2 linked regions of the Homo sapiens genome follow. The protein of the gene in region 2 purifies or fractionates together with the protein of the main gene of each other region. This does not show direct contact. Each region holds a gene or a part of one and is shown on either strand. Other genes may lie near its edges. The genes, in order: TIPRL and ZNF146.

Region 1 (3,824 bases), on a different chromosome or scaffold from region 2:
CCTGTAGTCCCAGCTACTCGGGAGGCTGAGGCAGGAGAAGCGTGAACCCGGGAGGCGGAGCTTGCAGTGAGCTGAGATCGCACCACTGCACTCCAGCCCTCCAGCCTGGGCGACAGAGCAAGACTCCGTCTCAAAAAAAAAAAATAAAATAAAATAAAAGAAGTAGAAAACACACATAACAAGTATGGTTATTCATATTTCTTTACCACTGCATTATAATTGGGTCTCTAATACTTTCCAGAAATAACTCAACTGAAACTTTTTACTAAATGCCTCATTCTTTAAGACCCAAAGACCCAGCTAAAATACCACCTTTTCTACAAGGCCCTTCACAACTCCGTTACACAGAGTTAAATATCTCTTTTCTATACTCCTTTTTAAAAACCTCTCAATTAGGCCGGGCGCGGTGGCCCATGCCTGTAATCCCAGCACTTTGGGAGGCCGAGGCGGGCGGATCACGAGGTCAGGAGATCGAGACCATGGTGAAACCCCGTCTCTACTAAAAATACAAAAAATTAGCTGGGCGCAGTGGCGGGCGCCTGTAGTCCCAGCTACCCGGGAGGCTGAGGCAGGAGAATGGCGTGAACCCGGAAGGCAGAGCTTGCAGTGAGCCGAGATCGTGCCACTGCACTCCAGCCTGGGCAACAAGCGAGACTCCGTCTCAAAACAAACAAACAAACAAACAAAACAAACAAAAAACCTCTCAATTATAGCATTTGTCATGAGATCTGTCAAAGACAGAGACCCTAACATCAAACATTGTTCTTGGGGCATAATGATTGTGGATGCTGTGATTTAAAGAATGAAAATAATACAAAAGCAGCAACAGATTTGTTTTAAAGTCAAATTTTAGCTACTTGGGAGGCAGAAGCAGGAGGATTGCTTGAGCCCAGGAGGTCAAGGCTACAGTGAGCTATGATGGTGCCACTGCACCCCAGCTTGGGAGACAAAATAATTTTATTTTTAGATAAATAAAAAATTTTATTTTTCTTATCTAAAAATAAAATTAGTTTTTTCGGTGGAATCAAAGGATTTTGAAATTGTAGTGAATTTTTAGAGAATCATTTTTTGTAGCCTCCATATTTTATAGATAAGGCCTAAAAAGATAGCTTAAGGTCATGAAACTAATTGCAAAGTTTTCTTTGTATCATCTAATATATATCATTATTCTAGCATTAGATAGTTGTTTTCATAGGCTTTACTTCTTTGCTCACTTATAACTCTAAATTCACTTTTTTTTGTTTAGATTTATTCTCTCTTCAGTTCACCTAGTCTTGTATCTTTCCACTTGTCTACCACCTGTTGAATTGACTATGCTAAATGTTCATTATGAGTTTGCATACCTGGGTGTGCATTTGTATCCAAGGGGGTATATATATCATGTCTATAAGTGGGTCGGTATTTGGAAAGCACATGTGGTTTTGTGGATGGAGTTGCTTGAAAGGATATGTGTATAAATATGTGTGTACAAGAATACATAGTAAGTCTTAAACTGAAGAGCATTTTTTTAACCAACTACTTTAAGCTGAAGTATTAGTTCATAGATATTACTATCCTGTAGTGAAATTTGTAGATGATTTAATCCACCTACTTTGCAGCAATCAACATATTTTAACTATAAAATTAAAGGAAATTGGTTTAGAATAAAATATATTTTAATACTTAAATGCATAATATGACTGCACCAAAGACATAATGAAGCAGTCAGGTACTTATATTTGCATATTGAGTCACCGTAAATGTGACAGCAAAAAATGTAGGCTGACAGAGATGTAAGGTATCAATCAGTGACTCTTAACACAATTTTCCAAAATGATGAACAACTCTTAGTGAAGTTCTAAATAAGAAAAAGTATAATCTTTCCTTGATTTGGAAAATAGTTGACTTCCTGGATAATTGAGTGATTTTTTTTTTATTATCTATGTAAAATGGAAATAGTTTCTAAAGTCAGATCATTATAAGTAGGCTTTTTCACCTCTGTGAATGCCTGGTAAGATACTGCAAGTTTTGTGGAATGCAGGACTGGACTTTGTTGTATAGGATTGTCCTGTGCATCCCAGATCTGTCGTTCTGGTCCTTATTCACTAACTGTTGATATTGGTTGCTTATTGATGTGACAAGAAAAAGTACTCTCACAAATTCCCAAACGTCCCCTAGGAAAGAACTACTGCCCTAAAATATGCTATTGTATTGGCACTAGAGTTCTGGTCTCCTAATTCCTACTCTCTCCACTGTGCCATGCTAAAATGATATTTCAGTTTACTGCCTGTGTTGTGTCCAGTGTGACTGTTGGTAACTAATTTTGAAATTTGAAGAAATGTTGCAAGTCAGTTTTTCCATAAATTACACATATCACTGTGTAGTAATGTCAAATAATAATGATGTGCTTCTCAATTTGTTGTGACATCAAGTTGTCATAAGTCAGGTTATTTCTACAGCTTTCCTTTACTAAAAGTCTTTTTTTTAAGTCTGTTGCTGATAACCCCATCAGAATACACTTTGGCTCAGAGCCTTTTCTCCAGCAAAGGTATTAATACCTTCTAGCTTCAGTTTTATCCGGAAAATGGTTAATGAGCACCTGCTGTGTGCTAGGTACTTTTCTAAGCAATAGAGATGTGGTGATGAACAAAGCAGATATTTCCACCACCATGGAGCCTACAGTCAAGTGGAAACATAAATGAAGATAGTTACAAATCCGTTAATTCGTAATGGAGTGCTATGAGAGAGAATACCAAGATAAATCTATTGTGGTATGGAATGGTAAGAAAGGCCCCTCTGTGGAAGTGACATGTGTACTGAAATCTGAAGGACAAGTGAACATTAGCCGGGAGAATACTCCAGGTAAGGGAAGAGGGTGTGTAATGGTCCCAAGGCAGAAAAGAATTTGGCCTGTGGCTGGTGACTCTCCAGGCAGTTAAGTCACTGTCATTACTGGGTTATCCTGTTATTTCTTCTTTCATCATTAATGTAGCCCTGTGCTTATATGTAAGATTATAGGCAGTTCCCTGAATATATGTTATTATTTCATGTCTCAGTACTTTTTGTACATGCAGGTCCCCTTTCTGAAATTCTCCTTCCCATCTCTAGCTGTTCTTTCTGTGGTCAGCTCAAGCCTTGTCTTATCTGATGTTCTTCAGCAGACTTAGGTACTTCTTTCTCAAATGCTTATTGAGCCTTGTGCATACCCATTATAGCAGCTACCACATCTGTTTGACCTTTCCCTGGCTGATAACCTTTTTGAGCATTGGGATTCTATTTTTTCATTTATATAAATCCAAGACTTACTATAGTAAGAACTTGGTGTTAGTAGACAATAGGTATTTATTCAGCAAATGGCCAAGCATATTCATTTTAATTAATTAATTAATTTTGGGACAGGGTCTTGCTCTGTTGCCCAGGCTGGAGTGCAGTGTTACAATCATGGCTCACTGCAGCCTATCTCCCAGGCCCAAGCCATCCTCCCAGCTTAGCCTTCCACGTAGCTAGGACTACAGGCTTGTGCCACCGTGCTTTGCTAATTTTTTGTATTTTTTGTAGAGATGGGGTCTGACTCTGTTGCCCAGGCTGGTCTTGAACTCCTGGGCTCAAGTGATCTTTCCACCTCAACCTTCCAAACTGCTGTGATTATAGGTGTGAGCCACCATGCCAGCTAAACATATTCATTTTAAAGACCCAAATACCTCACATTCCATTCAACCGCTCTCTCCCCGCCACCAGGACCCACCTTCATACTTTCTCCACTGATTCTGCCTATCATTAGTAGTTATACTTGGAAAGCAGAGGAATTTGTAGATGTGCCACAGATGAAAGATGTTAAGAATGTG
Region 2 (3,824 bases):
GCTCACACTCCCACTGACCCAGGCAGCATGGGTAATCTATATTTATATAATCATAATCTGTATCTGACCACAAAAGCCAGTATCTTATCTAATGTAAAAACACTGAAAAGCAAATCATGATAATAAAAGTAATAGAAAAACACTGAAGGCATTTCTATTAGATTCTAAACAGACAAGGATGCCTACTGCCTCAATTATATAATCTAATTACAAATAACTAAGGAAAGCAGGGAATAATATTAGTATGTAGAAATCAACAGCTTCATATATGCCAACAATGACTCCATTCATAGCAACATAAAACAAAACATCCAGAAATAAACTTAGTAAGAAGTGTCCAAACCTGTATGAAAAAAATTTTAAAACACCCTAGAGGACCCAAAAAGAAACGAGAATACGTATCACGTACATAAAGAGGAATATTTAATGTCATAAAAATGTCCCTATTCCCAAGTTATTTTATAAATTTAATGCAATCCCAATAAAAGTAACAAACTAGTTCTACCTTTTCCCCCTCTGGAACGAGACAAGCTAATCCTAAAATTTACAAAGAAAAATAAACAGGCAAGAATAGCCAGGAAACACTGAAAAGGACGAGCAATTAAGAGACTAGCTATACCACAAAGTAAAACACAATGATAAAGCCTCAATAGTAAAAAGATAAATATTTTCCCTGGTTGTTACACCTGGGCTATAGCAGTGTCCTCAGTCTTTCTGCTCACACCCAGAAACAGACCAAATAAATGTGAGAATTTAGTATATAATCAAAGTGGCATCCTAAAAATAGTAAACATAAGACCTTTTTTTAATGTGTGTGAGATGGAGTTTGGCTCTTGTTGCCCAGGCTGCAGTGCAGTGGCACAATCTCAGCTCACTGCAACCTCCGCCCTCCTATGTTCAAGCGATTCTCCTGTCTCAGCCTCCGAATAGCTGGGATTCAGGCATGTGCCACCACACCCAGCTAATGTTTTGTATTTTTAGTAGAGACAGGGTTTCTCCATATTGGCCAGGCTGGTCTCGAACTCCTGACCTCAAGTGATCCACCCACCTTGGCCTTGCAAAGTGCTGGGATTGCAGGCGTGAGCCACCGTGCCCAGCCAGGTAAGACCTTTTAATAAATGATGTCAAAGAACGTGGTAGCCAATTGGAAAAAGGTAAAGCTGGATGCATATCTGATAGCATACACCAGGATAAAATCTAAATGGATTATAAATTAAAATAAAAACAAAATCTTAAAAAAACTATTGCTCTGACTTGGGAAGCCAAGGTAGCAGGATCACTTGGGCCCAGGAGTTTGAGACCAGCCTGGGCAACACAGGGAGATCTTATCTCTACAATTTTTTTTTTTTTAAATTAGCGAGGATATGAAGGCTGCAGTCAGCTGTGATCACGCCACTGCACCCCAGCCTGGGTGACAGATCAAGATCCAACTCTAAAACAATCAAACAACAAAAAACTGTAACTTTATAAGAATTTGAAAATATCGGTGAAACTTAAGAGTGGAAAAGTCTGATAACCATAAAAGACTGATGAATCAGCCACGCGCGGTGGCTCACGCCTGTAATCCCAGCACTTTGGAGGGCCGAGGCGGGCGGATCACGAGGTCAGGAGATCGAGACCATCCTGGCTAACATGGTGAAACCCCGTCTCTACTAAAAATACGAAAAAATTAACCAGGCGTGGTGGCATGCGCCTGTAGTCCCAGCTACTTGGGAGGCTGAGGCAGGAGAATGGCGTGAACCCGGGAGGCGGAGCTTGCAGTGAGCCGAAATCGCACCACTGCATTCCAGCCTGGGGGACGGAGAGATACTCCATCTCAAAAAGAAAAAAATGTAACTAGATTTTTTTTTTTTTTTGAGACGGAGTCTCACTCTGTTGCCCAGGCTAAAGTGCAGTGGTGTGATCTCGTGCACCACAATGACTGGCTAAATTTTTTGTATTTTTAGTAGAGACGGGGTTTCACCATGTTGACCGGGCTAGTCTCAAACTCCTGACCTCAAGTGATCTACCCGCCTCAGCCTCCCAAAGTGCTGGGATTACAGGCGTGAGCCATCGCGCCCAGCCAAAAGTTTTGAAAATAAAAAGAAAACCATAGCAGCATGGTGGTGCACTGCCTGTAGTCCCCGCTACTTGGGAGTCTGAGACTTGCTTGGGCCCAGGGGTTCAAGGCCAGCCTGTGCAACACAGTGAGACTGTGCCTCTAAAAAATACATGAATAAAAAGGTCTTTGGTGTGGTGCGGGGATGTCTCTGTGCTCACCAACCACAGGGGGCTCATTCTAAGCACGGCTATGTAAAAAAAGAAACTATTATTACTAAATTAAAACAAAACCTCTTATTTCTGCAAGATTAAAAAAAAAAGAAACCACTGTGAACAATGTCCAAATGCAAATGAAAACTTCAAAAAAAAAAAAAAAAAAAGCCACCACTCATTTCATACAGGGCTAACCTTTCTAATTTATAAACAGCTCCTCTAAGGAGAAGACACCCCATAGAAAAATGGTGAAAAGGATATGAATAGACAGTTCCTAGATTAATACATACAGGCCTTTAAACATATAAAAAAAAATTCTCATTCATAAGAAGGGATGTAAATGAAACCTACACTGAAGTTCAGATTGTCTCTTATGTCCCTAGCGAAATACCAAATATTCGACACTACACTCATGGTGAGTTTAAGGGGAAGACGCTCTCGCACATGGCTTGTGGGAGTGTAAGTACTTACCCACTGGGCAGCGCCATTTGTATTAATAGCAGTCTAGTTTAGAGCTACTCCTGTGTCAGTATAAAATGGCGCACATAAAAAAATTATTCATTACTGCATTGTTAGCAACAGCAGAAGACTGGAAACAATCCAAATGCTCAACAACGGGATTAACTGAATCAACCATGGTGCATCCAAATAATGACATCTTATTTATACAGCAGCTGAAAAAAAAATTTCTTTTAAAGATTATGATTAAGAAGGAACACCTTGGCTGGGTGCAGTGGCTCACACTTGTAATCCCAACACTTTGGGAAGCCAAGAGAGGAGGACTGCTTGAGCTCAGGAGTTCGAGACCAATCTGGGAAACAGTGAGACCTCATCTCTACAAAAAGTAAAAAAGCCAGGTGTGGTGGAGTGTGCCTGTGGTCCCAGCTACACAGGCGGCTGAGGCAGGAAGATCACTTCAGCCCAGCAGTTGGAGGCTGCAGTATGCCATGTTAACACCATTGCACACCAGCTTGGGTGACAGAGCGAGACTATTTCAAAAAAAAAAAAAAAAAAAAAAGAAAGAAAAAAGGAAGGGCTATCTCTAGGACATACTGTTATTAAAGAAAGTGAGATATAGGGAGGTGCATGTGGTATGCTATCTTTTATGTAAGGTGGAGGGAAACAGGAGTGAAGAGAAATATATAATAGTGACAGAACAAAAAACAAAAAACCCACTTGAAGGATAAACAAGAAGCAAACAAAAAAAAACAAGACATGTTTACATAAGACAAAGAAGAATGTGACTGGGGGAAGGGAGCAGAATGAGATATCTCTGTGAGATAGATCTTTGTTGAATCACAGAAATGCATTACTTACTTCAATAGTAATCAAATTCATTTTTTAAAAAGTAGTGCCTTGGCCAGGCACGGTGGCTCAAGCCTGTAATCCCAGTACTTTGGGAGGCTGATGCGGGTGGATCACGAGGTCAGGAGATCAAGATCATCCTGGCTAACATGGTGAAACCTCGTCTCTACTAAAAATACAAAAAATTAGCCGGGCGTGGTGGCTGACACCTATAGTCCCAGCTACTCGGGAGGCTGAGGCAGAAGAATGGCGTGAACCCGGGAGGC

What was found.
Region 1: the proteins of ZNF146 (region 2) and TIPRL purify together in Homo sapiens (affinity purification with mass spectrometry, with the first as the bait; one large-scale study listed by BioGRID). This does not show direct contact.

What each region holds. Positions count from the first base shown.
Region 1 is NC_000001.11:168,192,222-168,196,045, forward strand, and holds part of TIPRL (TIP41-like protein), read left to right. Parts: coding exon of another isoform or gene 1-7; exon of another isoform or gene 8-174; intron 175-3,824. UniProt on the Homo sapiens protein: May be a allosteric regulator of serine/threonine-protein phosphatase 2A (PP2A). Isoform 1 inhibits catalytic activity of the PP2A(D) core complex in vitro. The PP2A(C):TIPRL complex does not show phosphatase activity.
Region 2 is NC_000019.10:36,221,375-36,225,198, reverse strand, and holds part of ZNF146 (zinc finger protein OZF), read right to left. Parts: intron 1-3,824.